Homo sapiens: one gene and its partner. The protein of the gene in region 1 interacts with the protein of each later gene in a pairwise test. Each region holds a gene or a part of one and is shown on either strand. Other genes may lie near its edges.

Region 1 (3,820 bases):
CTAATCCAAAAACCTGAAATTCTCCAGTGAGCATTTCCTTTAAGCATCATGTGAGCACTTAAAAGGTTTTGGATTTTGGAGCATTTTGGATTTTCAGATTAGGGTGCGTCCACCCTGTACCACATGATTAGTTACAGCAGGTGCTGGAGAAGTTGGTCAGGGGCGTGTGAAGCTGTGGTAAGTGAAAAAAGCTTCAGATAAGGGGTGGGGCAAGAATTGGAGGAAAGTTAGAAAGGAATCCCAAGAATGGGGGCTGGCAAGATTTGAACGAATGAAGGGAAGAAAGGTCCTCAAAAAAAAAAAAATGGATGAGGTCCCAGTTTGACTGGGGTGGAAGAACTAGTGGTGAAGAGGGATAGGGGAGTTCACTGTACCAAGCGTCTGCTGCTCTCCCCTCTCAGGAAAGTCCATGCTGCTCTCTGCTATTGGGAAGCGTGAAGTGCCCATCCCTGAGCACATCGACATCTACCATCTGACTCGAGAGATGCCCCCTAGTGACAAGACACCCTTGCATTGTGTGATGGAAGTCGACACAGAGCGGGCCATGCTGGAGAAAGAGGCAGAGCGGCTGGCTCATGAGGATGGTAGGGCTCCAGACCTGGGCATAGGGGTGGGCGTCCTCCCAGAAAGGCCCCCAGGAGCCTCATGGCCATACACTGTCCACAGCGGAGTGTGAGAAGCTCATGGAGCTCTACGAGCGCCTGGAGGAGCTGGATGCCGACAAGGCAGAGATGAGGGCCTCGCGGATCTTGCATGGACTGGGTTTCACACCTGCCATGCAGCGCAAGAAGCTAAAAGACTTCAGTGGGGGCTGGAGGATGAGGGTTGCCCTTGCCAGGTGAGTCCCTCCCTCCTTCCCTACCCCCATAACTCCCCCATCTCTCCAGTGTTTAGTGTTCACTCCAGTGGAACTGTTTGGAACAGGAGTCAGTGGTAAGTGTCAAATGAGACATGGACATCTGCAGTGTGGAGGGGGTTGTTGTGTATGGGCTAGAGAGAGAGCTTCCTGGCTGAAGTGGTAGAGTGACTCAGTTTTCTATTGGATTCTTAGCACCCAGCACAGAGTTTAGAGATCCTAGGGGTAGTCCTAGGTAAAACGGTGGAGTAGGTCTGTTTCTGTCCTCCCACCAGGATTCCCTTTCCACCCTTTTTGTACTCTAGTCCTGCTAATTCCAGCTGTAAAGATAAAATGTTAGACGGCTATTATGATAGCTGTCGTTCTTATTCTCTTGTGGCCTGGACTCAAAGTGAGTTTCCATAGACCAGCATTCCCCCAATAATCCCCCCAGAGTCACTAAACAGGTAATTCCTTGCCCCATCATTCTCTGTGAAGGGAATTTATAAGACTTGATATACTTCTCTAGAAAGTTGCCTGCATGTGCCTTAGAGTATAAGCACAGTGGTTCCACATGCTAGCAAGGATTAGCTGCCTCCGGTTCACCCAAGGAGCTTTTAAAAACACAGATTTCTGGTTTGGGAACCAGAGCTTTAGAGTCTATCCCTCGCTAGACTCTGGCCACCCCACAAGATAGGTCTATCTTCAGACCTTCAGATAGGTCTAATTTGTTTTAGCAGTTTATTTCCTCTGTATTTTTTTGTCTTCTCCGTAGTCTCCAACTTCAGTGCACAAGGCTCATAAACTCATAAAGACTTCTACAGCCTTGCCTCGAACTGTCCTTATATGCTTCTGAGCCCCGTATTCTACTCTTCAATCTCTTCTCTTCGACTCTTGTTTCTGTCCTGCTTCTCCTTTTCCCTCTGAGGTATAGAGCCTAAAATTGATTTCAAGACTCAAGCCAGGAGCCTACTCAGAATTGCATGTAGCAGGCAAGTTTGTCCCGTCCTGTGTCACATCCATTATAATTCTGAGGTGCTTCTGTCTCCTTTACCGTCCTTCAGAGCCCTCTTTATTCGGCCCTTCATGCTGCTCCTGGATGAGCCTACCAACCACCTGGACCTAGATGCTTGCGTGTGGTTGGAAGAAGAACTAAAAACGTAAGAGGGTGGAATGGGGGATGTGAGCGGGCAGGTCCCAAAGGGGGAATCTAGAAAATGGATGCCCAGAAACTGCACTGATGTTAGAGCGGTGAGAAAGGAACTGAAGGAAGGACAGAGTTCACTTTCTTGGACAAGCAGTGAGCACCTTTAGGGCTGTTGAAGGCTGGCCTTTTATTTTGATTGTTTTTCTTTAGTTTGAAATTTATGAGCTTTTTTTTTTAAAAAAAATCCTTGTTGGTTTTGTCCATATTTCAAATTCAAGATCTTAATTAAAGATATATTTTTTTTCTTAATTGTATAAAGCTAAAAAGAGGTCTTCCATCTAAGATCATGATGCAGTGACAAAGGAAAATATAGCCAATATGGTCATGGTCCTACAGCTAAAGAACTGAATAAGCTGGAATATTGTACCAATTTTAAAAGAAGGCTTTTAGTGGTACGATGACTTAGTACCTTCTTTCAAAAAGTAAAGCATTTTGTTTTTTATTGTGTCTGTACCAGTTCTTCCCACCCACAGTTTTGGATACATTCGTGGGTGTATTTGTGTACATACACACTTCTGGTTACTATCACTGTTACTACCGTCTCCATCCCATTCTGTTGAAAATTAGAACAGAAGATTGAGGAAACTCAGGCTGTCTCGCCACACTGAAAGGCGTCCAAATACCCTTACAGTTAGATTGTCGAGTCGTGGCTTAGGTGCTTGCTAACAGCCAGGAATTGGACAACACATCTAAAAGGTGCTTAGGGATGAGGATGGGCCTGACTTTCAGTTCACCTGTTGTCAGCTAGCTCCCATGGTTGAGCTCTTCACTAATTGGTTCTTTGGCTTTACAGTTTTAAGCGCATCTTGGTCCTCGTCTCCCATTCCCAGGATTTTCTGAATGGTGTCTGTACCAATATCATTCACATGCACAACAAGAAACTGAAGTATTATACGGTGAGTGGGCCTCGGCTTCTTCTGGTAATCTCTGTGCATACCAATTCTCTGAAATTCTCTTTAAAAAAAAAAAAAAAGGCTGGTGTGGTGGCTCATGCCTGTAATCCCAGCACTTTGGGAGGCCGAGGTGGGTGGGTCACTTGAGGTCAGGAGTTTGAGACCAGCCTGGCCAATATGGTGAAACCCTGTCTCTACTAAAAATACAAAAAAATTAGCCAGGCGTGGTGGCAGGTGCCTGTAGTCCCAGCTACTTGGGAAGCTGAGGCAGGAGAATCACTTGAACCCTGGAGGCGGAGGTTGCAGTGAGCTGAGATCACACCACTGCACTCCAGCCTGGGTGACAGAGCAAGACTCCATCTCAAAAAAAAAAAAAAAGCAGACCTATCTATTAGCTCCTTTCTACCTATTGCTATAAAAAGATATGGACAAGGAGTCCTACCACCTGTTTTATTTTAATCCCAAAGTCATTGCTTTCAGGCCATAGGCCATGGATTGGCAGCCTGTGCACACAAGGTGTATGTTTGCCTTGTGGCAAAGAAGTTGACTTTTCACGGTGACCAGGCAGGCCCTGCTCTCATCTGCCTTGCCTCTTTTTTTCTGGAAACAGAATCTCATTCCGTCACCCAGGCTGGCATGATCTCAGCTCACTGCAACCTCTACTTCCTGAATTCAAGCGATTCTTGTACCTCAGCCTTCTGAGTAGCTGGGACTACAGGCATGCACTGCCATGTCTGGCTAGTTTTTGTATTTTTAGTAGAGACGGGATTTTGCCATGTTGGCCAGGCTGGTCTTGAACTCTTGACTTCAGGTGATCTGCCCTCCTCAGCCTCCCAAAGTGCTGGGATAACAGGCATGAGCCACCACACGAGGCCTCCCTCTGCC
Region 2 (3,820 bases), on another chromosome or scaffold:
CTTATTTACATTTATTCAAGTATTTAGGAAGTCAGTCTAAATATGTATGTTTTAAATTTACATTTTTATTTATTTCTAGGCCTATCATGGTCACCATCAAGCACTGGAAGTGTTGGTACAGTCTTTGTTAGATCTTGATGTCAGAAATAGTAGTGGAAGAACACCCCTAGATCTTGCAGCTTTTAAGGGCCATGTTGAATGTGTGGATGTACTCATTAATCAGGGAGCCTCAATCTTAGTAAAAGATTACATTTTGAAGAGGACACCTATTCATGCAGCAGGTATGCCAGATATTATGCTTGATTTATTTATAACTTCTATCCAATACTTTTTTTCAATTTCTGATATATAATATTTCCAGTTAATTGTCTTTAAAATTTTGACCTTTTTTTTTTTCAAATCATATATGGATTATTTGACCTCACCAAATAACTTTATTCACACAAATGAATTTACAAAGCCTCCGTCATTCATAAACATTAGGAGTATCCCAGTGTTCAGGGAACTTAAATACAGTGTATTATATCAACCCAAGTAAACCAAGCACAAAAAATATTCATATAAAGTTGTTTACATGTAGGTCCTAGACTACCAGCTTCTGTGTGAAAAAGGAAATAAAAATAGATTTATTAACTAGTGTTTGAAACTAACTTTGTGCCTGGCTTAAAACCTCCCTCATGCTCCAGCCTGTCCCACACAAGTGTTTAAGAAGTCATTAAAACTGTCCTGCTCTCATGAAAAGAAGCTCCTCTGCACAAAAGATGTAAGTGCCCCCAAGTAGCTCCCTTCCTCCTGTGGCCTCTCTTGGAAAACAACCTTGGCAGCCTCCTTGCTGATACCTTCTGCAATTTTAGGGGCCCCTCAGGGGGCAGTGGCAGTGGATTCATCTTTTGATGATGGCTGCAGATGCTAACATTGGCCAATTCTATGTCACACCTACTGGTTACTCTTTGAAGGCATTTCTCCAGACAGAAGCCCCACTACCGTCAAAGCTTAGGTAGGGCAGGATCAGAGAGGCGCCTGTGTTGTTTTGAAGGTTGTGCTACAGCCTGGACTTATCTCTGGACTTCTCCCTCTAAAACCCAGTGGCCCAAAGAGCTGAAAAATGTCAGCTTGGCTCTTCAAAAGTTTCCAGACCCAAGGAGATTACCAAGAGCTACAACTGTCTGGGGAAATTTTTGACTTTAAGTGGTAAAATGATTGTATTCTCAGGGAATACCAACAACAAGACTATCATCACTTAAAACATTATCTGCCTTAGAAGTTGGGTTTATGTAATAATCTAACTTCTGAAACACTTTATCAACAAAACAATGCAGTATTTATTTCTTTCTGGTAGAAGTTATTTTGGATTGGTATAATCTTTCATTTAACAAGTGATACACGTTTTGACTTATTTTACCAGTGTACTGCATTAAACATTTATGCAGACAGGCTTTACAGAGCACTTTATGCAAGAACTATTCCATATTGTGATATTATGATGTAGCAGATACGTTAAAATACGAAGGTCTATAACCAAGTCAGTTAAATGACTTGCTACCCACTGCGTATCACTGGCAGATGCAGATTCACAACTCTCTATTTTTATAGAGTGATCCTTAAGAATACATTTGAATATATGTCTTGGATTTTTTTTCTAGTCCTTTGGGAAGCTTACATTTTAGAAGACTATTGATAACACCCACTGTTACTCCCAGAGCCGCCCTTCAAAGCTATCAGATGTTCAAGTGGGGCTGAGAAAAATATTTTAATAATACATTAGAACCTCTAATAAACATATATACACTACTATATGGTTTGAACAAGAGGTTAAAATGCATTACTTGCTGTTACCTTATTCTGAAAAAGAGTGAAGTTATATATCACTTTGCAAAGCCAAACTTGGTGGCGCATGCCTGTATTCCCACCTAACTTGGGAGGCTGAGGCAAGAGGGTCACTTGAGTTCAGTTTCATTGCACTCTAGGCAACATGATGAAACCCTGTTCCTAAAATATAAAATAAAAATCAATTTTGTACACTGGATGGGATCTGTGAAAAATAAGTACATTTTAAAAATATTAATCTATAGCTAGAAAAATTATAATTGCAGATCATATGCAGAACTAATTTAAAGCTTGCATGGAGTGGTTGCACTCTCAATAGGTAAATATTGAACTGAGACATTAGCCAGTCCCTTAGAAGTAGTTAACCAATGCCATATAGTTCAGCATAAATCCTACCCACAAAAAGAACCACAGGTTACTCTTAGTGCCTATCTATTCAATAAATGCAAGCCTTGTATCTATAGATGCCTTTCAAATTTGGAGGTCTATAGAGAGCATCTATAAGCCATGAAAAGAACACTGAGGGTTTTTTTTCCTGGAGGTTTACCAGTCATTTCCCACAGAGATGCTGTGCTTGCTGTTTGGGTATTGAACTTAGATGACACAAACATTCATCAGTAGCGACTGTGAACTGAGTGTAAATGAACTGATTTGAAAAATGATGGGCCAAACAAGTTCTTCTTGAACATCCCCAAGTGTTACGACCCTGTTTTTTGTTGCTAAGCTGTGAGAGCTGCTGGCAGAGTGCAGCATACAGATTGGACTAGGGTAGGAGAGGTGATTTAAGCCACAAGTTTAATAACTATTAGTATTTAATATAACTGTGGGAACATACTGTGGAATATTCAGCACCTAGCTTGCTTTTGCTAGTTTTGTCATCTTTTAATTAGAAGAAATAGTGATAGACGTTCTTTTCTGTATCATATGCAAGATACATTTTTTTCTAATGTATTTCTTTAAACTTCAGACTTTGTATATATTAACAGGACCTGAATTTTGCAGAGGATTTAACTTACTTCAAAAGCTCTTTTCTTTGGACTACTTCTACTTGTACCCTTGCCCATTTTATGCATTTGGACTTAACACATGCATTCTTTAGATGGATCATTTTTCTTGTACTGTATGTATATATATATATATCATTTGAAATTATTTCAGCCATAAATAACAGAGTACCCTACTGAAAATAGCTTAAGGGGTTTAGTGTCTCATATACAATGTCGAAAGGCAGGCTGGGCACGGTGGCTCATGCCTGTAATCCCAGCACTTTGGGAGGCCGAGGTGGGTGGATCATGAGGTCAGGAGTTCAAGACCAGCCATGCCTAGATGGTGAAACCTCATCTCTCCTAAAAATACAAAAAAAATCGCCGGGTGTGGTGGCAGGCGCCTGTAATCCCAGCTACTTGGGAGGCTGAGGCAGAGAATTGCTTGAACCCAGGAGGCGGAAGTTGCAGTGAGCCAAGATCACACCACTACACTCCAGCCTGGGCGACAGAGCGAGATTCTGTCTCAAAAAAAAAAAAAAAGCAATATCAGGCAGATGCAGTTCCAGGGTTGGTTGATTCTACAACGGTGTCAGAGCTCTGGATTAAATTCTGTTATTCTCTTACATTTGCATTCATGTTGTGGGATTATTGCTGCTGCTTTTAAGGATTGCATCTAAAATCAGGAAGGAATGGGGGCTTTTCATTATTAAAGATAAAAGTATTTCCCAGCAGCCTCTAGACTTATCGGCATCTCAGTAGTCAGACCTGGTTCCTGTGCTGCTCACCTTAAAACTGATCACTGTCAGAGGAGAATGGGGTTCTTGTGATTGACTTGGTCTAATCATGGTATCATCCCTTTGCTGGAGTCAAGGCACTCTTCCTGACCACATTGCCAGAGAGCTAAATAAAATGAGCATTCTTTTAGAGGCAGATGATAGGGCATGGGTGCTGGGTAGGCGGTCTGCCTGTCATGTTTTACTGTGAGGAATTCACATTTATTCCAGCTT

What was found.
Region 2: the proteins of ABCF2 (region 1) and ANKRD28 interact in a two-hybrid assay, tested with the Homo sapiens proteins (one large-scale study listed by BioGRID).

Annotation. Positions count from the first base shown.
Region 1 is NC_000007.14:151,220,696-151,224,515, reverse strand, and holds part of ABCF2 (ATP-binding cassette sub-family F member 2), read left to right. Parts: intron 1-401; coding exon 402-584; intron 585-666; coding exon 667-838; intron 839-1,899; coding exon 1,900-1,995; intron 1,996-2,835; coding exon 2,836-2,938; intron 2,939-3,820. Other genes in the region: ABCF2-H2BK1 (ABCF2-H2B protein), read left to right, coding at 402-584, 667-838, 1,900-1,995, 2,836-2,938.
Region 2 is NC_000003.12:15,686,480-15,690,299, reverse strand, and holds part of ANKRD28 (serine/threonine-protein phosphatase 6 regulatory ankyrin repeat subunit A), read left to right. Parts: intron 1-79; coding exon 80-281; intron 282-411; exon of another isoform or gene 412-1,953; coding exon of another isoform or gene 1,954-1,989; intron 1,990-3,820. UniProt on the Homo sapiens protein: Regulatory subunit of protein phosphatase 6 (PP6) that may be involved in the recognition of phosphoprotein substrates. Involved in the PP6-mediated dephosphorylation of NFKBIE opposing its degradation in response to TNF-alpha.